Linked DNA regions of Homo sapiens. The protein of the gene in region 3 purifies or fractionates together with the protein of the main gene of each other region. This does not show direct contact. Each region holds a gene or a part of one and is shown on either strand. Other genes may lie near its edges.

Evidence for each region.
Region 1: the proteins of ZNF736 (region 3) and PPM1G purify together in Homo sapiens (co-immunoprecipitation; one large-scale study listed by IntAct). This does not show direct contact.
Region 2: the proteins of ZNF736 (region 3) and USP34 purify together in Homo sapiens (co-immunoprecipitation; one large-scale study listed by IntAct). This does not show direct contact.
Region 4: the proteins of ZNF736 (region 3) and IPO7 purify together in Homo sapiens (co-immunoprecipitation; one large-scale study listed by IntAct). This does not show direct contact.
Region 5: the proteins of ZNF736 (region 3) and IPO8 purify together in Homo sapiens (co-immunoprecipitation; one large-scale study listed by IntAct). This does not show direct contact.

Annotation. Positions count from the first base shown.
Region 1 is NC_000002.12:27,385,540-27,390,433, reverse strand, and holds part of PPM1G (protein phosphatase 1G), read left to right. Parts: intron 1-3,275; coding exon 3,276-3,345; intron 3,346-4,154; coding exon 4,155-4,240; intron 4,241-4,554; coding exon 4,555-4,687; intron 4,688-4,894.
Region 2 is NC_000002.12:61,211,846-61,216,739, reverse strand, and holds part of USP34 (ubiquitin carboxyl-terminal hydrolase 34), read left to right. Parts: intron 1-2,045; coding exon 2,046-2,680; intron 2,681-4,810; coding exon 4,811-4,894. UniProt on the Homo sapiens protein: Ubiquitin hydrolase that can remove conjugated ubiquitin from AXIN1 and AXIN2, thereby acting as a regulator of Wnt signaling pathway.
Region 3 is NC_000007.14:64,344,468-64,349,361, reverse strand, and holds part of ZNF736 (zinc finger protein 736), read right to left. Parts: intron 1,273-4,894; coding exon 215-1,272; 3' UTR 1-214. UniProt on the Homo sapiens protein: May be involved in transcriptional regulation.
Region 4 is NC_000011.10:9,386,744-9,391,637, reverse strand, and holds part of IPO7 (importin-7), read right to left. Parts: intron 1-4,894. UniProt on the Homo sapiens protein: Functions in nuclear protein import, either by acting as autonomous nuclear transport receptor or as an adapter-like protein in association with the importin-beta subunit KPNB1.
Region 5 is NC_000012.12:30,663,995-30,668,888, reverse strand, and holds part of IPO8 (importin-8), read left to right. Parts: intron 1-2,637; coding exon 2,638-2,714; intron 2,715-3,043; coding exon 3,044-3,160; intron 3,161-3,579; coding exon 3,580-3,669; intron 3,670-4,894. UniProt on the Homo sapiens protein: Involved in nuclear protein import, either by acting as autonomous nuclear transport receptor or as an adapter-like protein in association with the importin-beta subunit KPNB1.

The DNA.
Region 1 (4,894 bases), on a different chromosome or scaffold from region 3:
TTGCTGTTAAGGTTATTACATTCTCTGTGTAGTAAGACCTTGAAGGAGAAGGATTTGAGATCAGGAGTTTAAGAAAAAATGTTAATCTAGGAAGAGAGGATAATTTCTGTGTTTGGCCAGTTGCAATGGCTCACGCCTGTAATCCCAGCGTTTTGGGAGGCCGAGCTGGGCAGATCACTTGAGCTCAGGAGTTTGAGAAGAGCCTGGGCAACATGGTGAAGCCCCGTCTCTACTGAAAATACAAAAATTGGCTGGGCGTGGTGGCAGGTGCCCACTGTAATTTCAGCCACTCAGGAGACTGAGGCAGGAGAATTGCTTGAACCTGGAAAGTGGAGGATATGGTGAGCCTAGATCGCGCCACTCTACTCCAGCCTGGGAGACTCCATCTCAAAAAAAAAAGAAAACAAGATGCTGAAATGAAGTAATTACCACAGTCAATGTGATCCTATAACTTTGTTTTGTTTTAGAGATGGGGTCTCCCTCTGTCACCCAGGCTGGAGTGCAGTGGTGCATCATAGCTTTCTGCAGCCTCCACCTCCTGGGCTCAGGTGGTCCTCTTGCCTCAGTGTTCCGAGTAGTTAGGACTGACTGCAGGTGCATGCTGCTATGCCTGGCTAACTTTAAAATTTTTTTGTAGAGGCGGGGTCTTGCTATGTTGCCTAGGCTGGTCTCCAACTCCTGATCTCAATCAGTCCTCCTGCCTACCTTCCCAGAGCGCTGGGATTACAGGTGTGAGCCATCGCACCTAGCCAATCTCATAACATTTTATGACTAGCAAACTTAGTAGTTCTGATTCAGGCATAAATCAGTTGGTGGGGTTATACAAGGTTGGGTGAGTTTTTCTAGATTTCTAAGAGACCATGTTGAAATACTTGGCTCTGTCTCAGTAAGGGATAGAGAGAAGCAAAGGTGTGGGTAAAGGTTATGAGCAGACATGTAAAGGGGGCAAATTAAAGTGTTTAGGGAAGGTGAAACAGTTCCAAATCATAATATAGATCCCAAGCCTCACCAAGAAGTGAAGGAGAGGGTAATTGTGCGATAGTTCTCAGGACTGAGACCTCAAGGTGTAAGACGAATCTTTATTGTGGGTGGTCCTCTTTGAGAAAAAGAACAAAAAAGAAAAATGTGAAATGGGTGCTAAATTTCAGAGCAGAATATACATATATGTGTATGTGTGTGTGTATATATATATATATTTTTATGTAGCAAATTCCAGTTTACAAAGGGCTTTTATGTGTTTTGCATCATTACAACAGTTCTGTGATGATGTGGATGTGGTGGATATTGTAATTCCACATCACAGAGGATAAAATTGAGGCACACCATAAGGTAGCTGACCAGAGATCATGCAGTATATGGTAGAATGGCAACTTGAGGCCAGTTCTTAGGTGTGTTTGTTGTCCTTATTCAGAATGGAACAATGTGGTTTATTGTACAAAAATTTAAAAATGAATGTCGAAAAGTAGAAATTATTACCCAAATCTCACCCTCTGTGGTTGTTTGCTATGTGATCTTCCAGACTCACATATACATGTAGATAATTTTTTTTTTTTTTTTTTGAGACGGAGTCTTGCTCTGTCGCCCTGGCTGGAGTGCAGTGGCGCAATCTCGGCTCACTGCAGGCTCTGCCTCCTGGGTTCACGCCATTCTCCTGCCTCAGCCTCCCAAGTAGCTGGGACTACAGGCGCCCACCATCACCTCCAGCTAATTTTTTGTATTTTTAGTAGAGACGGGGTTTCACCATGTTAGCCAGGATGGTCTCGATCTCCTGACCTCATGATCCGCCTGCCTGGGCCTCCCAAAGTGCTGGGATTACAGGAGTGAGCCACTGTGGCCGTCCTCACATGTAGATACTTTTTTAACTTTTTGCTTTTAACCACTTAAGATATTGTGAACTCATTTCCAAATTAACATATATTTGCTTTTAACAGCTACATTTCCACTGGAGTTACGTACCATTTGTAATCTATTCCTGGAAATTTAGATGGTTACAACTGTTTTTTATTTTATTTATTTATTTATTTAGAGACGGAGTCTGACTCTGTCACCCAGGCTGGAGCGCAGTGGTGTGATCTTGGCTCACTGCAACTTCCACCTCCGGGGTTCAAGTGATTCTCCTGCCTCACCCTTCCGAGTAGCTGGGACTACGGGCGCACACCACCACGCCTGGCTAATTTTTGTATTTTTAGTAGAGACGGGGTTTCACCATGTTGGCCAGGATGGTATTGATCTCTTGACTTCATGATCTGCCGGCCTTAGCCTCCCAAAGTGCTGGGATTACAGGTGTGAGCCACCACGCCTGGCCTCAACTGTTTTTTATTATAAATAATGCTGTAGGCCGGGCGCGGTGGCTCACTTATGTAATCCCAGCACTTTGGGAGACTGAGGCGGGTGGATCCCGAGATCAGGAGATCGAGACCATTCTGGCTAACAAGGTGAAACCCCGTCTCTACTAAAAATACAAAAAATTAGCCGGGTGTGGTGGTGGGTGCCTGTAGTCCCAGCTACTTGGGAGGCTGAGGCAGGAGAATGGCGTGAACCTGGGAGGCGAAGCTTGCAGTGAGCAGAGATCGCACCACTGCCCTCCAGGCTGGGCGACAGAGCGAGACTCCGTCTCAAAAAATAATAATAAATAAATAAATAAATAAAGCTGTGTACAGCCTGGCCAACACTTTGGGAGGCCGAGGCAGGCAGATCACAAGGTCAGGAGTTCGAGACCAGCCTGACCAACATGGTGAAACCCCATCTCTACTAAAAATACAAAAGTTAGCCGGGCATGGTGGCACATGCCTGTAATCTCAGCTATTCAGCAGGCGGAGGCAGGAGAATCGCTTGAACCCACGAGGCGGAGGTTGCAGTGAGCCAAGATCGCGCCACTGCACTCCAGCTTGGGTGACAGGGCGAGACTCTGTCTCAAAAAAAAAAAGAAGAAAAAATCCTTTATTCTGGTTTTCCCGTAGCTTCCACAGATCCAAAAGGGTCAGGTTTATTTCCAGTAGCCAAATATTCTGCCATCTGGACTGAGATATCTCCTAGGTTGAGGTTATTATAGAGGTAGTAACCTGATTCTTTCTTCCTTTTCTCCTTCCCCTTTCCTCCTTTGCCTCCCTCCTCTTTTCTTCCTCTGTATTTATTTTATCATTCCTTCTTCCTTTCTTATTTCTAGGCCATATAGGCCAGCCAGGGAAAGGTTAGTAAGGGGTGACATTGATCCCTATGACCTGAGGAATATTCTTCGACCTTGAGACATGCCGATTATGCTCTTCTTTTCCTAGGATGCTCACAACTGTATTCCTGAGCTGGACAGTGAGACAGCCATGTTTTCTGTCTACGATGGACATGGAGGTAACTTTAACAGATCATATTGGTAACATTCTAGGACCCCAATTCCAGACGTTCCAGGGCAAGAACAGGTCCCTTTGTTCATTTACTTTCCAGGGTCTGGCCCTCATTATCATTTCCTGCGTGGTGCTGTTTTTCTGTATTCTGTCATTCTTTTTTCCCAGTAGGTACTGTATTGGTTTATAATCTCACCAGGACTTGTTTTAATCCAAAGAGCCTCTATCTTTTTTTATTTTTATTTTTTAAAATTTTTAGGCTGGGCACGCGGTAGGTCACACCTGTAATCCCGGCACAGTGGATCACGAGGTCAGGAGTTCGAGACCAGCCTGACCAATATGGTGAAACCCCATCTCTACTAAAAATACAAAAATTAGCTGGGCGTAGTGGTGGGCGCCTGTGGTCCCAGCTGCTCGGAAGGCTGAGGCAGGAGAATCGCTTGAACCTGGGAGGTGGAGGTTGCAGTGAGCCAAGACCATGCCACTGCACTCCAGCCTGGGCAACAGAGCAAGACTCTTGTCTTAAAAAACAAAAAAGTGTACCCAGTTGAGCTGATTCTTTATCTTTTTTTCACTGGAGAACTAAGTATACAGGTGAGAAAAGACGAGATATTTATACCCGAGAGAATTGATGGTGAAATCCATTTTTTTGGATCAGAACTTCCCCAAACAGTGTCCTTCAAATAGGGTTCAGGGGTGCTAAGATATTTATCCCCTCAACCCTTGGGGTTCACTCCAGTATGGCATATAAATATTGTATCACTTTCTATGTGTGGGGAGCAGTGCTCCAGGTGACCTTCCTTCCTTTCCTTCTAGGGGAGGAAGTTGCCTTGTACTGTGCCAAATATCTTCCTGATATCATCAAAGATCAGAAGGCCTACAAGGAAGGCAAGCTACAGAAGGTCTGTCTGCTTACACCGCCCATTCCTCACTTGTGTAGGCTTTTCCCTTGTTCTCTAGCCCTTGGGCTTTTCCTTTCTTTTTGTCCTCTAGCTGCTGCTGCTTATTTACTCTTGAAGAATTCTGTTCCTAAAACGAGCTTATTGGCCGCCTTTTAGACTTGCCTTATTATTCCTAGGCCTCTGAGCTGTTTTTATCTGTGAGTGTCTCTTAGTGTGGTGGCTCACACTCTTAATTTGTATTCCATCCTTGTGCTCAGGATTGTATATAGGGAGTTCATTTTGTACTAGTCTTAGACTATTTTGCTTATATTCAGGCTTTAGAAGATGCCTTCTTGGCTATTGACGCCAAATTGACCACTGAAGAAGTCATTAAAGAGCTGGCACAGATTGCAGGGCGACCCACTGAGGATGAAGATGAAAAAGAAAAAGTAGCTGATGAAGATGATGGTGAGTGTGGCATCCCTTGTTTGAGGGGAAATCAGCATTTTAAGAAATATTCTTTAATATTACTTATCAATTCTAAGATAGGATGGCTTTCTAGGGACCTGGGGAGTCCTTATGTTAAAGAAACCTATGATGTTCTCCTGCATTGTATGTGGTTATGAAAAGGAGGGAGAGAATTATCTTCGTTGAGTGGCATCTGAGCTGTAAGCA
Region 2 (4,894 bases), on a different chromosome or scaffold from region 3:
ACCATGTTGGCCAGGCTGGTCTTGAACTCCTGACCTCAGATGATCTGCCCGCCTTGGCCTCTCAAAGTGCTGGGATTACAGGCATGAGTCACCGTACCCAGCCAAATGGTTTTTTTGTTTTTTGTTTTTTGTTGTTTTTTGAGATGGAGTCTCACTCAGTCACCCAGGCTGGAGTGCAGTGGCGCAATCTCGGCTTACTGCAAGCTCTGCCTCCCGGGTTCACACCATTCTCCTGCCTCAGCCTCCCGAGTAGCTGGGACTACAGGCGCTCACCACCACGCCTGGCTAATTTTTTGTATTTTTAGTAGAGATGGGGTTTCACCATATTAGCCAGGATGATCTCGAGCTCCTGACCTCGTGATCCGCCCGCCTTGGCCTCCCAAAATGCTGGGATTACAGGCATGAGCCACCGCACCCAGCCGCCAAATGGCTTTTTTAAATCGTAAATTACTTTTCTTGATTGAAGTTTTATGCAAAAATTGATCAGGATGATACCTACATGCCAGGTTTTTATATTTGAAACACATAACAAACTGAGCCTTAAAAATTCTGACTAAGCAGACTAGTATATAGGTAAAGAAATATCTAGAAAATGGAGTATTGTGCACAAAGTTTAATTTGGAAATAAATTTGTAAAATAAACTAAAATTAATTTTAGAAACCCTAACTTTGTTTGCTTTGACAATACAATGGAAATTATCAAGTTATAGTTAGAATAGGGGGAGACAAATAATGGTTGTCCTGAAAAGAACCCAAACTCAGACATTAGAGAGTCTTGAGGAGGTTCCATAGTGAATGTTAGGAGCATTATTAGCCTGTGAATCTGATTGGCTGGATTTGAATCCCAGCTCTGGCCACTAGCTGTGTAAGCTGAGATAGTCCCATTGTTGTAAGCCTGAGTGAAAGTGGGGATAATAAATGCAATGCCTGCCACATAAAGTTATGACGTCAAATAGTATACATTTGGTAAAGGCTCACAATTCTTATTATAGTTATTACTATTATTGTTTTACCATTATCATTATCATCATCATTGTTTCTCAAGGCAAAATCTAGCCTCCACCTCTTTATCTGTGTGACCTTGGTCTTTGCTTCTCCAAGATTCAGATTTTCCAGAGCACTGTTACCTCCATCCAGGGTCATTGTGAGGATTAAATGAGAAGTTTATACAGCACCTAGGTCAATGCTTTGTTGATAGTAACTGCTTTTACAGGTTAGCGCAACTAATAAGTCACTAACTCCTCAGCATTATAACATAGGCTTAATAAGTTTAACACCAAGTTCTTTCCTTGGGTGTAAGTTTAGCCTTAAAAGACTTCTAAAGATTTTCCAAAGTTAATGTTCTGTAATTAGCATATATGTAATCAAATAGGACTTTTATGTATATCTCATTCTTTCTTTATAACTTAAATATATATTATCTGGTTACAATTTAACACCCAGTTCTTTCCTTTGGTGTAAGGTTAGCCTTAGAAGACTTTTAAAGATTTTCCAAAGTTAATGTTCTATAATTAGCATATATGTAATCTTATATATTGAACTTTTATGTATATCTATTTCTTTCTTTATAACAAGTATATTTTACCATATCTGTATGTTATTACAAAGTAAATTATCATTATTTTTCAATTAAGAAGAAAACTAAGACTGTAGAACATTGAATGATTTGACCTCCTCAGGTACCTTTTGGTAGGTCTTCTGACTGCAAATGCTGGGTTCCCTCTGTTAAATCATACTACTTCCTGAGAAGAAATAAAAGATAAAGTGGGAAAATTCTGCATCTTAGGCAAGCTAAAGAAAAGTGGTTTAAAAATTATTGCCACTTCAAAAATAACAATGGCAGAATAGAAGGTATCTATTTTTATCACCTCTTGGGATCTTTTTGTGGGGCCAAGGGGAAAGCAGAAAGATACTAAAAGAGATGTTCATGTCCCTTTTTATTCATTTTAATTATTAAAGGGAACAGTGGCTTTGTGATTAATGACTGCTGTTCAGTCTATTTTATATCTTACAAGGATCTGACAGTTTTGTTTTACATTTTATAGCTGCAGCTTATCTTCTGGTGTCCCTTATACCAAGCAATTCATTCCGTCAGATGTTCCGGTCAACAAGGTCTTTGCACATCCCAACCCGTGACCTTCCACTCAGTCCAGACACAACAGTAGTCCTACATCAGGTCTACAACGTGCTCCTTGGTTTGCTCTCAAGAGCCAAACTTTATGTTGATGCTGCTGTTCATGGCACTACAAAGCTAGTGCCCTATTTTAGCTTTATGACTTACTGTTTAATTTCCAAAACTGAGAAGCTGATGTTTTCCACATATTTCATGGATTTGTGGAACCTTTTCCAGCCTAAACTTTCTGAGCCAGCAATAGCTACAAATCACAATAAACAGGCTTTGCTTTCATTTTGGTACAATGTCTGTGCTGACTGTCCAGAGAATATCCGCCTTATTGTTCAGAACCCAGTGGTAACCAAGAACATTGCCTTCAATTACATCCTTGCTGACCATGATGATCAGGATGTGGTGCTTTTTAACCGTGGGATGCTGCCAGCGTACTATGGCATTCTGAGGCTCTGCTGTGAGCAGTCTCCTGCATTCACACGACAACTGGCTTCTCACCAGAACATCCAGTGGGCCTTTAAGAATCTTACACCACATGCCAGCCAATACCCTGGAGTGAGTAAAATTGATACTCTTTTATCTGTATCCTCAAATAGATTGGAAATACCTGTTTTTCCCCTGGTGGGAAGTGGTGGCAGAATATAGAATAGTCTCACCATTCTTTCTTAAGAACTTAATGTGTATTTGTTTTCTTAAATACATATATAAAATGCTGTGTTGTTATAAAATTGATAACTGTGTAGATAACTTTTCTTAGGGTGAAGTTAAAGTTGCATATCCAGTAAAACTTACCTGTTTTTTAATTTGTGGTTTTGTAAATGTATTCTTCATGTGTGCCTAATGAAAAAAGCCAGCTTCATGGTACAGTTTTAAGGAATTGAGTACTTTGCTATTTAAAAATCAGATACTTAGCAAAATCTACATGCTGTGGTAAACTGTGAGCTAGACAATTTTATATCTAAAACTAGTAGTATTCCGCAGTATTTTTTCTCAAGCTGCATCCAAACAAATGAAATGCTTAAGAGATCAATCGAGATACATATATATGCAGTCTAAATTGGGTCCCTTTTACTCTGCACACTTACTTGTAGGTTTTATATTAAGTTTCCTCCCCTCGATGTAAAGCTGTCAAACCTGGTTAATAACTTTTCACTGTTGCCTCTTATTCTCTGTTGTAAACTGTACTTTAAAGACAGACCGTCCTTTATAGACGGTCTTTTTTTTTCTAGATGGTGTAATGAGTTGTATAGAATCTCACACCTGGGAAGAATAACCTAATTTCTAGTCAGAGAAAATTAGAATCCCAGGCCGGCATAGTGGCTCACACCTGTAATTTCAGCACTTTGGAGGCAGAGGCGGATCACTCGAGCCCAGCAGTTCAAGACCAGCCTGGGCAACATGGCAAAACTCCATCTCTACAAAAAATACAAAATTAGCTGGGAGTAGTGGTGTGCACCTATAGTCGCAGCTGCTTGGGAGGCTGAGGTGGGAGGATCGCTTGAGCCCAGGAGGTTGAGGCTGCATTGAGACATTGTACTGCACCCTGGGCAACAAAGCAAGACTCTGTCTCAAAAGAAAAAATCAGAATCCCTACAATGCAGGAAAGAGAGTGAGTGTACAAGTACCAAGAAATTGAAAACCAATGCCATAAGAATACAAAATATCAATCTTTCTGACTTCAAAGGGGTCGGGATAGGATTTATTAAGTTTCAGTAAATTTGTCTCTATCATATTCACATAAATAATATTTGATCTAGTTACTAGATGTGATGTCCAGAATTAAATATACTTTGACAAGTACTAGATGAGTTAGAATTTATCCCTCCATGTTATTTATTGCCCTTGACATCAGTGAAATGTAATGTCTTTTATTGTAGAATGTCCTTATCTATTAGAAATTTTCATGAAAATGGTACTTAAGTCAGTTTTTTGCTTTGAAAAATAAGAAGCTGGGGGTTTCAGTTCATTGACAAGTATGTGTTAGAAGAGCAGTCCTCTCCTGACATGTGCATATGAGTCTATAAAATCACAGCTAGTGATTTTACTAAAATATTTGTTTTTACTTTTTATTCATCAGGAAATTGAACTGAGCATCATTCTAGAAAAGCATTTTAAATGTTGGAACAAAGGTTTACCTCATATACACTATTAATTTAAGGGTTATTTAGGCATTTAAAATCTTTGTGACAAAGTAATGATTTCTCATTAATTAAAGAAAAAGTGGATAGGAGATGGTGTGGCATGCCTCTGGGTTTACATTTGAAGTTACAAAAGTAGTGCTTTAAGCAGTAATAAGACTAAAAATGAATTGTATTCACTTACAGTTTTTACTCTTTCTAAACTTGTATTTTAAGATTTGTTGAGTTCTTTTAGTGTTTATTATTATTGTTATTATTTGTATTTTAGTAGAGACAGAGTTTCATCATGTTGCCCTGGCTGGTCTCGAACTCCTGAGTTCAGGCAATCTGCCCGCCTCTGCCTCCCAAAGTGCTAGGCATCAGCCACTGCGCCCAGCCAAAATTTTTTAAATAGAATTTGTTACTGATTTTATAACTTTCTGAATGGAAGTATAATCTAGCTTATTTGTATAATTTTAAGAGTTGATTAATGAACGTAGAAATGAGAAACTGACCTTCTAAAATGCTATAGGGTTAAAAGATCATATGGCTTATTTGGCTTTTTTAGGCAGTAGAAGAACTGTTTAACCTGATGCAGCTGTTTATAGCTCAGAGGCCAGATATGAGAGAAGAAGAATTAGAAGATATTAAA
Region 3 (4,894 bases):
TAACATAGATTTAAAAAAAAAGGGCATTACATAATAGCAAAGGGCTATATATGTACCCAACATATAAGCAACCAGATTATAAAGTAAGTTCTTAGAGACCCTCTAAGATGATAAATGTTCTTCCACTGTCATTACATTTATACTGCATTTGTTCAGTATTAAATTTCAGATGTTGAACACAGTATGAGGACTTGGTAAAGGCTTTTCCACATTTTTAACACTTGTGGAGCTTCTCTCTAGTATGAATTCTCTTATGTCTGATGAGGTGTGAGAACCAGCTCGATGCTTTGCCACATTCTTCACATTTGTAGGGTTTCTCTCCAGTGTGAATTCTCTTATGATTAGTCAGGTCTGAGAAGCACTTAAAGGTTTTGCTGCATTCTTCACATTTGTAAGGTCTCTCTTCCATATGAATTCTCTTGTGGTTAAAAAGGGTTGAGGAGCGGGTAAAGGCTTTGCCACATTCTTCACAGATGTAGGGTTTCTCTCCAGTATGAATTCTCTTATGTTTACTAAGGGCCGAGAACCACTTAAAAGCTTTTCCACATTCATTACATGTGTAGGGTTTGTCTCCAGTATGAATTATCTTATGTTTAGCAAGGTCTGAGAACCACCTATAGGCTTTGTTACATTCTTCACATTTGTAGGGTTTCTCTCCAGTATGAATTCTCTTATGATTAGTAAGGTCTGAGAAGCACTTAAAGGCTTTGCCACATTCTTCACATTTGTAGGGTCTGTCTCCAGTATGATTTCTCTTGTGTTTAACAAGGGTTGAGGAGCAGGTAAAAGTTTTGCCACATCCTTCACATTTGTAAGGTTTCTCTCCAGTATGAACTCTCTTATGTTCAGTAAGGTTTGAAAACTTTTTAAACGCTTTGCCACATTCTTCACATTTGTAGCATCTCTCTACAGTATGAATTTTCTTATGTCTAGTAAAATCTGAGAACAACCTACAGTCTTTGCCACATTCTTCACATTTGTGGCATTTCTCTCTGCTAAAAATGTCTTTATGTTCAGTGAAGATTGAGCACAACTGAAAACCTCTGCCACATTTATTACATTGACAGGTTTTGCTATGGGTAGCTGACAAACATTGATGAAGGCCATTATAACTGCTTTTCTGCCCCTTGCAATTACCCACACTTTGGTAGTCTTTCTTTAAATGTAAATTATTAAGGTCACAGCTTCCATATTTTCTCAGAATCACTTTTTGAAATGAATCTTTTATGTCATGATCCGGCAATATCTCTGCAGTAAAATGAAAAGAACCAGCTGGAGAAAAAAAATAAAATTCTCCCTCATTAGACTCAGGTGAATATACTTCACAAATATATAATTATACAAAGCAATTAATAAAACGATAATAAAATACCACAGGCTCTATATTCTTATAGACATATAAACCTAACAGAAATATACTGACCAAAATGCCTTTGTGAGAAGTCTAAGAACCAGTTAAGCATTTGCGGCACACCAAGTGAGCAAAACGCCAAGAACCACATAGAAGTGTAATAAAAGTATTTCATATTTACCCACCACAGCCATTCTTCATCCTATGATGACTCTAACTATAGACTCCAAACTCCTGTCTACCCCCTCCAAAAATAAATAAAATAGTGGCACATGTGTCCATGCTTCTGGCTTATTGAGACCTTACCAAAGACTAATTTCTATATTCCATGACAGTGTTGAAAGGAAAGGTGGTATGCACTGACAGTTTCGGACAGCTGAGACCAAAGGTAAATGACTGTTACAAGAGAAGAAAGACTTCAGTATCATAGACAGACAATGGGTATAGCAAGTGACTAAGGGATCTCAATAAGAAACATAGGGAATGGCCAGGAGTGGTGGCTCACACCTGTAATCCCAGCACTTTGGGAGGCTGAGGCAGGCGGACCACCTGAGGTCAGATGTTCAAGACCAGACAGGCCAACATGGTGAAACCTTGTCTCAACTAAAAATACAAAAATTAGCAGGGCGTGGTGGCAGGTGCCTGTAATCCCAGCTACTTGGGAGGCTGAGGCAGAAGAAAGGAGAATCGCTTGAACTCAGGAGGTGGAGGTTGCAATGAGCCAAGCTTGTAACATTGCACTCCAGTCTGGGCAACAAGAGTAACACTCAAAAAAAAAAAAAAAAAAAAAAAAGGCGAACATTTTTTAACTAAAAAACACACAAGCTCAGAGAAAACATCCATAGAACAGGCTTGAGAGACTCCAAGACTCCCTAGCCTAAAAAATTGGTATCATATTCCCTCAGACAAAAGTCACTTAATACAGATTTTGACATGTGGCTTTTTATTATACAAATTGCAACATTACAACATAAACAAAACATCAAGATAATATGGCTCAAAGAAAAAAAAGAATATCCAGAAATCAATTATTAAAAAAAGGAGATGTAAAAATTATGTGAGACAATTTGAATTAAAGTCTTGATCTATTTTTTAAAAGAAAAAAATAAATTACCCTAGAAAATCAAAATTACATCTCAATGATGCTCAATGAGTAAAATGGAAATTAAAAAAACAAAATGAAATAACAAAAATGAAACCAACAAAAAGATAAAAAGCACAGAAAGAAATAAAAATTGTGTAGTAGAACTACAAAAAAAGACTAATATGCACTTCAACATTAGTAAAAAATATAAGAAAATCAAGAAGCTCAGCAAACTTCAACTAAGATAACACAAAGAGATTTCTAACAAGACATAACACAAGCAATGTTTTAAAAGTCGCAGACAAGAAGAGAATCTGGAATTCAGGAAGAAGAAAGAGACGTGTTATTTATATGCATGCTTCTGCAAGATTACGAGTAAATTTAAGAACATAAATCTTTCAGGCAAGAAGGGAACAGGATGACATAGTTAAAGCACTGGAAAAAAAAAAAGTCTAAGCAAGAATACTATATCCAGCAAAAGTATCTTCCAAAATGAAAAAAAAAATCTAACTATATCATGACATATATCAAGATCTACATCAAGATCTAACTATATCATGTCTTCAAGAGATTCACTTTAGATCTAATAAAAAAAAAAGACAAAATGGCAGGATGAAAAATACATTTTATGCAAGTGTTAACCAAATGAGAGAAGAGGCAACAATTTATTAAGTTGAAAATGGTCATATTTCATATAATTTACTTTAAGTCAAAATTCACAAGAGACAAAGTAGGACATTCAATTATAATAAGAGGGTTCATTCACTGAGAACCTATAAATACAAGACAGTTTTCCCAAACACATAAAGCAAACATTGACGGAACTGAAGCAAAAATAGACAGCAATATAATAATGGAAGGAAACATCAACATCCCACTTTCACTAATACATAAAGCAAGACAGAATATCAATGAGGGAACAAAAAACTTGAATGTACTATAAAATAATTACACCTAACAAATGTATACAGACAGCAGAATACACATTCTTTTCAATAGCTCATGAAACATTTTCCTAGATGGATGACCTGTGACACCACAAAACAAGTCTTAACAATTTTTTTAATTGAAATTTTACGGACAATTATTTATGGTCCAAATGGAATGAAACTAGAAATCAGTAACAGAAGAAAAGCTGAAAAATTCAAAAAACATAAAAATTAAACAACACACCTTTTTTTTTTTTTTTTTTTTAAGATGGAGTATTGCTCTGTCACCAGGCTGGAGTGCAGTGGCACGATCTCGGCTCACTGCAACCTCCACCTCCTGGGTTCATGTGATTCCCCTGCCTCAGCCTCCTCTCCTGAGTAGCTGGGACTACAGACATGCACCACCACGCCCAGCTAATTTTTTGTATTTTAGTAGAGACAAGGTTTCACCATGTTGGCCAGGATGGTCTCGATCTCCTTACCTTATGATGTGCCCACCTCGGCCTCCCAAAGTGCTGGGATGACAGGCATGAGCCACCGCACCCAACCAACAACACACTTTTGAGCATGCTCTTTTTCAAGGGTTGGAAGACATAACATTGTGAAGATGTCCATGCTGCTTAAAGTGACCCACACATTCAACACACCCTTTTCAATTTTCAATTTTACTTTTCCTGGCCGGGCACAGTGGTTCACGCCTGTAATCCCAGCACTTTGGGAGGCCGAGGCGGGCAGATCATGAGATCAGGAGATCGAGACCATCCTGGCTAACATGGTGAAACCCCGTCTCTACTAGAAAAAAAAAAATTAGCCAGGCGCGGTGGCGAGCAACTATAGCCCCAGCTACTCTGGAGGCGTCGGCAGAAGAATGGTGTGAACCAGGGAGGCAGAGCTTGCAGTGAGCCGAGATCGCGCCACTGCACTCCAGCCTGGGTGACAGAGCGAGACTCCATCTCAAAAATAAATAAATAAATAAATAAATAATAAAATAAATTTTACTTTTCCAAAAAGAAAAAAAAAACCCACAAAATTACATAAGATCTCAAGGTAACATGAAAAGCCTGACAATCTTTAAAAAGAAGAAAAATATTGGAAGCATTATGCTTAACAATTTCCAAACACAAAACAAAACTACATCAATCAAAGCACTTTGGTACTGGTATAAATGTAGAACACCAAAGTAATGAAACACAATGCAGCACAGATATAAACTCTTGAATATATGGTCAAGTGAGTTATTTGTACACCATATTGAAGCATTATCCACAAAAGCCAATAGGTAAAAGCAATTTAAACTTTCCTTACCAAATTAATCGATAAATATAATTTAAAATATAAAAAAGGGAATATTAATCAGCTTTTTAAAAGCAGGAAATCTTCTAATATCTATTATAAAGACAAATTTTGAAGACAACATGCTAAATTAGTAAGCCAGCCACACACACAAAAATACTGTATGAATCTACTTACATGGAATATGTAAAATAGTTACATCCTTAAAAACAGAAAATAGAATGATGTTTGTAAAGG
Region 4 (4,894 bases), on a different chromosome or scaffold from region 3:
CTGCCTCCCAGGTTCATGCCATTCTGCCTCAGCCTCCTGAGTAGGTGGAACTACAGGCACCCACCACCATGCCCAGCTAATTTTCTGTATTTTTAGTAGAAATGGGGTTTCACCATGTTAGCCAGGATGGTCTCGATCTCCTGACCTCATGATCCACCCACCTCAGCCTCCCAAAGTGCTGGGATTACAGGCGTGAGCCACCATGCCCGGCCAGAACTTTTATTTTATTTTTCTTTTTTTGAGGCAGAGTCTTGCACTGTTGCCCGGGCTGGAATGCAATGACGTGATCTTGGCTCACTGCACCTCCGCCTCCCGGGTTCAAGTGATTCTCCTGCCTCAGTCTCCCAAGTAGCTGGGATTACAGGCACCCACCACCACACCCGGCTAATTTTTCATATTTTCAGTAGAGACGGGGTTTCACTATGTTGATCAGGCTTGTCTCGAACTCCCGACCTTGTGATCCGCCCACCTCGGCCTCCCAAAGTGCTGGATTACAGGCGTGAGCCACCGCATCTGACCTCCAACTAGGAACTTTAAAAAAAAACTTTTTTATTAGAAATCATTTAGCAGCCGGGCGCTGTGATTCATGCCTGTAATCCCAACACTTTGGGAGGCAGAGGCGGGTGGATCACCTGAGGTCAGGAGTTCAAGACCAGCCTGGCCAACAAGGTGAAACCCCATCTCTACCAAAAATACAAAAATTAGCCAGGAGTGGTGGCGGGCGCCTGCAGTCCCAGCTACTCGGGAGGCTGAGGCAGGAGAATTGCTTGAACCCAGAAGGCAGAGGTTGCAGTGAACCAAGACTGCGCCACTGCATTCCAGCCTGGGTGACAGAGCGAGGCTCTGGCTAAAAAAAAAAATTTTTTTTGTATGTTGCCCAGGCTGGTCTCAAACTCCTGGACGAGCGATCCTCTTCCTGCTTTTACCTCCCAAAGTGCTGGGATTACAGGCGTGAGCCACTGCGCCCAAACTCTTTCAGATCTTTAACAAGCTATATCATTGAATAACTTGCTATCTAACAGCCGAAGTATCCAGGGACTTTCCTTCTCCCAAATTCAGAACAGTACTTCAAAATATTCCTGGTGAAGGAATGTTATCTAAACTACAGGCTACTCTGGTCTTCCTAAAATATTTTGCTTAATTTCTAAACATTCCAAATTATCTTACAAATATGCCATTATTTTACACTTTTCCAGACCTAAGATTTTCATTAAATACTTTTAATAAAATGGAATCAAATGAACCATTTATAAGTAAGGTATATCACATACAGCAGTAATAGTTAACCTTTTGTGACAATCCCAAAAGTGATCCAGGGTAGTGTGAGTTAAAAAAAAAAAAACACACACACACACAAAATATCAAGAAACTTACCAAAAGCAAGATCACTTTTTCATATAAAGCAAGTGAGAAAGTAGCACTGCTGCCTGTACATATAAAACCATTAGGCCGGGCACGGTGGCTCAGGCCTGTAATCCCAGCACTTTGGGAGGCCAAGACGGACGGATCACCTGAGGTCAGGAGTTCGAGACCAGCCTGGCCAACATGGCGAAACCCCGTCTCTACTAAAAATATAAAATTAGGCCAGGCGCAGTGGCTCACGCCTGTAATCCCAAGACTTTGGGAGGCTGAGGTGGGCAATCACCTGCAGTGAGGAGTTCAAGACCAGGCTGGCCAACATGGTGAAACCCCGTCTCTACTAAAAACACAAAAATTAGCCGTGTGTGGTGGTGCATTCCTTTAATCCCAGCTACTCGGGAGGCTGAGGCAGAATTGCCTGAACCCGGGAGATGGAGGTTGCAGTGAGCCGGATGGCACCAATGCACTCTAGCCTGGGCAAAAAGAGCGAAACTCCACTCAAAAAAAAAAAAAGGTGTATATACATATATAACCATTATATACCATATTGAGCTTAGGAACTAAGAGTTTAAATGTCTCCTGGGTAAACCCTCTAATTCCACTTACAGCATTTTTCTTGACTGCGAATATAACAGGGGAAAGACTATTGATGCGGAGATCATATCCACCTTAGCCAAAATCAGATCTAATAGTTTCGTCATCCAAAACTTACATGTAGCTTTATTATAGTACTGACCACATGTATTGTATGGGCCAGTGACGTGGTGATTATGGAGCTCTAGAAAGGCAGTGATCATAAATTTCTCTGCATCTAACTACTTAGCTCAGTGCCTAGCACACAGACATTTGCTGTTACATGAACCAGACTGGGAATTATCCTTCGGAATGAGTATTTAATAAAAATCTTCCTGGCATTATATTTAAAAACACCGGCTGGTGTGGTGGCTCATGCCTGTAATCTCAGCACTTTGGGAGGCCAAGGTGAGTGGATCACTTAAGGTCAGGAGTTCGAGACCAGCCTGGGCAATGTGGCGAAACCCCGTCTCTACTAAAAATACAAAAATTGGCCAGATGTGGTGGCACCTGTAGTCTCAGTTACTCAAGAGGCTGAGGACTGAGAATCGCTTGAACCTGGGATTGGAGGCTACAGTGAGCCAAGATCATGCCACCGCACTCTAGCCTGGGCAACCGAGTGAGAACCTGCCACAAAAATACTAATAATAATAATAATAAATTTTAAAAAATAAATAAAAGAGCTAAAGCCTATACTGTTATTTATTAATATTATAACAGGAAGTCAGTCATAAAGCCTATTACTGGGAAATCAAGGAATAACAATAACAAAAAATAACAATTCATGACCTCAAGAAACTTAAAATTATAGTGGGGAGAAGAAAAGTTAAGTAAAATTAGGCCAGGCGTGGTAGCACGTGTCTGCAGTCCCAGCCACCTGGGAGGCTCAGATGGGAGGACGCTGCTTGAGGCCAAGAGTTCTAGGCTGTAGTGTACTATGTAGTGCAGTGGAGCCCACTGCACTCCAGCCTGGGTAACATAGCAAGGCCTTAGCTCTGAAAAAATTAAAAATAAGCCTGGGCAACACGGTGAAACCTTGTCTCTACAAAAAATACAAAAATTAATTGGGCATAGTGGCACATCCCCGTAGTCTCAGCTACCTGGGAGGCTGAAGTGGGAGTGTTGCTTGAGCCCGAGAGGGAGAGGCTGCAGTGAGCCATGATGGTGCCACTGCACTCCAGCCTGGGTGATGGAGCAAGACCCTGTCTCAAAAAATAAATATAAATAAATAGGCTGGGCATGGTGGCTCATTCCTGTAATCCCAGCACTTTGGGAGGCCGAGGTGGGCGGATCACAAGGTCAGGAGTTGGAGACCAGCCTGGCCAACATGGTAAAACCCCATCTCTGCTAAAAATACAGAATTAGCCAGGTGTGGTGGCAAACGCCTGTAATCCCAGCTACTTGGGAGGCTGAGGCAGGAGAATTGCTTGAACCCAGGAGGCAGAAGTTGCGGTGGGCTCATATTGCGCCACTGCACTCCAGCCTGGGCAACAAGAGCAAGACTCCGTCTCAAAAAAAAAAAAATTTATTTATTTATTTATTTTTATTTTTATTTTTTGAGACGCAGTTTCGCTCTTGTTGCTCAGGCTGGAGTGCAATGGTACGATCTCGGCTCACCGCAACCTCCACCTCCCGGGTTCAAGCGATTCTCCTGCCTCAGCCTCCCTAGTAGCTGGGATTACAGGCATGCGCCACCACGCCCAGCTAATTTTGTATTTTTAGTAGAGACGGGGTTTCTCCATGTTGGTCAGGCTGGTCTCGAACTCCCAACCTCAGGTGATCCGCCCGCCTCGGACTCCCAAAGTGCTGGAATTCCAGGCATGAGCCACCATGCCCAGCCAATGTTTTAAATTTAATTAATTAATTAATTTTTTTGAGATGGAGTCTCACTCTGTTGCCCAGGCTGGAGTGCAGTGGCACGATCTCAGCTCACCGCAACCTCCGCCTCCCAGGTTCAAGCGATTCTTCTGCCTCAGCCTCCTGAGTAGCTGGGATTACAAGCATGCGCCACCGCGCCCAGCTAATTTTGTATTCTTAGTAGAGATGGGGTTTCTCCATGTTGGTCAGGCTGGTCTCAAACTCCCAACCTCAAGTGATCAGTCCGCCTCAGCCTCACAAAATGCTGGGATTACAGGCGTGAGCCACCGTGCCTGGCCAAATAAAATTAATTTTAAAAGTAAGCCAAATATGTATGACAAATCAGTGCTATAGAGAAAAACAAGTGAAAGGAGATAGGGAGTATGATGGTCAAGGAACTCCTCAGTGATAAGGAGACATTTGAACAGGGATGGAAGGAAATGAGAGAACAAGTTAGGGGGATAACTATGTGAAAGGAGTTCCAAGGAGTTAAGTGCAAAGACTCTGAGGCAGAAGGGCTATTTTGTTTCGAAACTGTCTATACTATAAACACTTTAATAACATTTACAAATTTTACATTGAGTCAGTGATTATTTCACTTTGTGAAGAGATTCATTCAAATGTCAATGATCTTATTCTTTGGTTCTAAATGAACCAAAACACAGCTTCACTGGAATGAGAGACATCATAGAATAATTCGTTCTTCTATCTTCTCCAAAGCAAGAGCCTTTCAGAAATGTTACTTCCTCATTCTTAACAATATTCAAGACTTGTCTGAGATCTGTCTCCCAAATCAATGTTCTGCCACAAGAAAGTCAAAGCAAAAAATATTTAAATGGAAGAAGGGAGAGGGAGAAGTAGTGTATTAAAATGGAATGAAAGTAAATATACTAATAGAAAATTTACCTTAGGAAGAATATTTAAAAATCTAGGTGTTATAATTGAAAGAAATGTATGAAATGTAAATAGTTAAGGATTACAAAAATAAAGGCCATGTAACAAATTTTCTTTGACAGATTAGCGGTGTTCACTGTTTGACAGTATTCCAAAACAGTAGTTTAATGGTTAAGTAAAAAAGGCATTGAATACTATTTTGATCATTTGT
Region 5 (4,894 bases), on a different chromosome or scaffold from region 3:
CTTTTGGGAGACTCATTTATAGATTGGGTTGTTCTCATGTGGGAAATACTTTGGATTTCTGCATATTTTAGGGGTACCCCAATTTGGTTTGCTTGCTTGTCTGAGAGACTAAGTGTTCCACAAGGGAAATAAATTTCGTATGGGGGCCCTACTGTGTGTGGTCCAATTCTTTGGGTGTCCTTTTAACTTGGATCTTCCTGGAAACTGTTGAATTGTGTAGGTGGCCTGATTTATTCCCTTTTATTCCCAGTTTGTATTAATTGCTTCATGGAACACTCAAGCACTTAACATAGCAAAATATTAATTTGCATACCTATCTCCCACAACTTAGAAGCTTTCTCAGGACAGGAATTTTACCTTATTTGCTTAATTTTGCATTTTCTGTCTCTTCTACACCTCTGCATTCCTCCACTAGTGCTTGGCCTCCAGTATGCCTTCAATACATGTTGAAAGAAATGATTGCTAAATCTAGCGCTGCGTGCTGAAAGTGCTGTAATGAAGCAGTGCTTTCCCCTTAGTTGAGCCAGGTGTGTCTAGCTACGTAAGCTAAACCTACTGGTACAGATGCTAGTTTTTTGGGCTGTGTTTTTACAGAGCTTTGTGTTTATATTATTTGATTCAGTAAGTGAGGATCCTGTTTTCTCTTGGAGACAAAGTATCAGAAAAGCAAATCAATGAGAAACATTTATCATCTGCTTGATTTGTTATTTTTCTTTTGAAAATCATTATTCATATGTGTAACTTATTATTTCCCCTTTCTTATGCCTTTGTTTTTCTAGTTTGCTTTGAGTGATTAGCCAACCATTCTTCTCTCTCTCTCTCTCTCTCTTTTTTTTGTTCCAGTGACTCTCCCACCTCAGCCTCCAAGTAGTTGGGGCCACAGGCATGTGCCACCACACCTGGCTAATTATTTTTTGCAGAGACAGGGTCTCCCTGTATTTCCCAGGCTGGTTTCGAACTCCTGGCTTAAGTGATCCTCTTGCCTTGCAAGGCATTCTTTTAGTGTTTACTTCTTTCATAATACCTATGTGTTTTTGTGATGTACAGAGTATTTGTTTAGCTTTCAGAAAGTTACCATTATTTATATATTCTTCATATCTGATAAGATAGGTATACATACCCTAGTTTTTAGAAAATAAGAACTCTATGTCTGTTGATTAACAGTGGGAATTTACATTTTATTGTTTAAAAGCGGATATGGGTAACTCAAGACTGACTAGCTGAAGTGAGTTTTCTTTAATCGTTTCCTTCTGTAGACTGGAATGCAGTGGCTTTTATTTGATATGTGTATTTTACTTTTGGGTAACCATAGGGAAGAACAATTACTGCATTTTCTTTTTATATGTTTGGCACTTGCAATTATTTACGTGAAACAAAGCATTCCTATCTAAATGTATTGACTGATTAATAATAATGTTTTAGTTTATTCTTTTTATCTACTCTTTAACCAACATCTCCTCACTTCCCCCAATAATGTTTTTTGATTTGGTAAGAACTAACAAGAGCTCAGGCTTTGATGTTAAGATAGCGTGGGTGTGAATGCTGGTTTGGTCACTTACCTGCTGTGTGACTGTGGACAGGTTACTTAACCTCTCTAAAATTCAGTGCTTTCAGCTGTCAAACGGGTGATGATAATAGTGCTGGGAGGATTAAATGGGATAATACACATGAACTAACTGCTTAGCATAGAATACAAGATGCTTCTAAAACTGTAGCATACTGCTTGGCACAGAGTAAGTACAGTACTCCAAAAATGTTCTTATTATGTTTGTATTTTATATTTTGAGGTAGACTTAGATTTGGTTTTATCTTTTGTATTTAAACAAGGACTTATCAGATACCTCTCAAGACTTCAGTTTCTTATGTAAAACTGCCTATTCTGAAACTTGTGAAAATGTTCATGGTATTAAGTGATATGTTAAGTTTTAGATAGGTATATATTCAACAAAACCTGCTGAACTTACGTATCGACAGAGCCAGGCATGGTCCTAGCAGTCCTTCAAGGCTTTTATACTTGCTGTTTCACCTGCTTGGAGTACTTTATCCATGGATTGCTTTCTCCCTCATTTCATTCAATTTCTGCTTAAATGTTACCTTAACAGAGTTGGAGAGGCTTTTGCTAACACCCTATTTAAACTAGCACCCCATACTCTGTCACTCTGTCTCTTTACCCTATTTTACATTTGTTCTTAGCCTGACTTATTATGTGTGTATATATGTATAATGTGTTTCTTTGTTTCACGACATAAGCTCCGTGAGAACCTTTTTGTTTGATCTTTGTATCCCCGGGGTCTAGAATGGTACCTGGCACATAGTAAGAGCTGAGTGAATTTTTGTTGTTTTTTGATAGAAATAAAGCACTTTTTCTGTTCTCAGTGAAACAGATGTGTAAATGCATTGTTTTCTTCAATATAATAGTTTGAAAGGACAACCTGTAGAGTTTGAGGAACATTGTTTTGTGCAGGAGACAGCAATGTTGTGGTGCCACTGTATATCCTTACCTTTTTAGTACTGTCAAGCAGTGTCATATGTGGATGGTTTTATTTTTTTGGTTTGGAATAGCGGTCAGTCAGGTTTAAAATCTAGAATAAGTAATTATATTTTCACTAACATGGTTTTAACCTTTTAAAATCTTAGATATTTTTGAAGATTATGCTTCTCCCACCACAGCAGCCCAGACTCTCTTATATACTGCTGCAAAGAAAAGAAAAGAGGTATTTCATTTTTCTTTTTAAATCCAAAACTGAAAGGTGGCCTGTGTTGAGTTGATACTCTAGTATATCCCTAGTATTTGAGAAATTATGTTGTTATTCGTTATAATTTGTCACCTTAAGGATTTTTTTTTTCCTCTCCTGGTGAGGGGAAAGGGGGTATCATGGTTATTTCGTTTTCTTAATAAATTATACTTTTCTTATTGAGCTTATAGTTGCTTGATAAAACATAATAAAATGGCTTTATTTTTAAAAATTTGTGCATCATAGTTAATACTATAGTAAGACAATGAAAGTTCATGTAGACTAAATGGATTCTTCTGTTTCTTTAGGTGTTGCCAAAAATGATGGCATTCTGTTATCAAATCCTGACAGACCCGAACTTTGACCCTAGGAAGAAAGATGGAGCCCTGCATGTGATTGGTTCCCTAGCTGAGATTTTACTGAAGGTTAAGATAATCAAAATTTAATTTACTTAATAACATTGTAAAGTACAGGCAAATGAGAGAATATGAAAGTTATGGCTAATTTAAAGCTGGTGACTACCTCTGGATAATTGAGTTCACAACTATCCTCCTTTCTGTCATCTATTTCTTTAATTAAAAAGAAAATTTGACTGTTTAAAGTTTTCAGTATGAAACTATTGATATGTGAAAGGGATACAAAGTATCTTATGTCTACAAAATCAATCAATATCAAACTGATATAAGGTAATATTTGTCTTGTTTTAAAACATGCAATATATAGGTCAAATAATTTTACAAAATTAGAAGTATATTAAATGCAAGTCATAGTAAACACACTTGATTAGGAAGTGATTCTTACGTATGAAAAAGAAATTGATAAGTTGAAATTTGTTTCCTAATAGAAGAGTTTATTCAAGGACCAAATGGAGCTGTTTCTACAAAATCATGTATTTCCATTATTATTGTCTAACCTGGGATATCTTCGAGCTAGAGTAAGTTTTTCATATTTCTGTTATGTATCTTAAATCTTCATAAGATAATTATTCAAATAAATGTTTTTTGGATAAATTGACCTTTTGCCACATATTGAGATGAAATAGAGTCAATTAGAATGTCTGCCTATGGTCACATCAGCTGAATAAAGGACAGACTATTAAAGAAAAAGATTTATAGGCTGGGCGCAGTGGCTCATGCCTGTAATCCCAGCACTTTGGGAGGCTGAGGTGGGCGGATCACTTGAGATCGGGAGTTTGAGACCAGCCTGGCCAACATGGTGAAACCCTGTCTCTACAAAAATACAAAAAATTAGCTGGGCTTCATGGCAGGCGCCTGTTATCCCAGCTACTAGGGAGGCTGAGCCAGGAGAATTGCTTGAACCCGGGAGGCGGAGGTTGCGGTGAGCTGAGATCGTGCCACTGCACTCCAGCCTGGACAACAGTGAGACCCTGTCTCAAAAAAAAAGGAAAATATTTATGGATTTTATTTCCTGCTGGTTTTATTTCATTTGTCACCCTAGCCTCACTTGCTGCATATGTAAAACATGAAATGAGAAAGGTGATTTTATAGCAGTGATACAATTTAAATTCACAAATGGATTTATTTTGTGTATAAAATGACATGAAATTCCAGATTGGCTAAGAACTTGAATTTGATTTTCAGTATATTAGGTAGATTTGCCTTAGTAAAATGGAGAGATTAATAATCCATGTGAAATTGTGCTCTATGTGTATATTCTTTTAGAATCAATATATTTTATGGAGAAATAGAAACAGGACTTTTATTCAAGAGCCTAGCATTTCTCTTTATAAATATATCAACACAAAAATGTCTTGCTAAAAACAACATATATTAACAATGCCTTGTACACTAGAAAGCATTTTATAAAATAATAGTTACTAGCGCAATATCTGGGCAAATGTGGACTAGGGACGCTGAGGGCACATGAGCATTTTTACAGTGGGGCTCCTACCTTTGAGAAGTTATATGAATTGTGATTCTCTTGCTAAAAGTCTTTAGTAACTAGAATTAATTTCTGTTGATTGTGTTTGATGCACACAGAGAGTAAAATATAATAATGATTCTGTGGTCTAATAGTTAAAATGTGATCATCTATACCAGGTTTAAAATTTTTGGTACCTATGAGAGTGAAAAAAAGGAAGCTTACTAAACCAGTTAGTGTAAGGGAAAATAATGTTTTACCTAAGTGTGACAAATGAA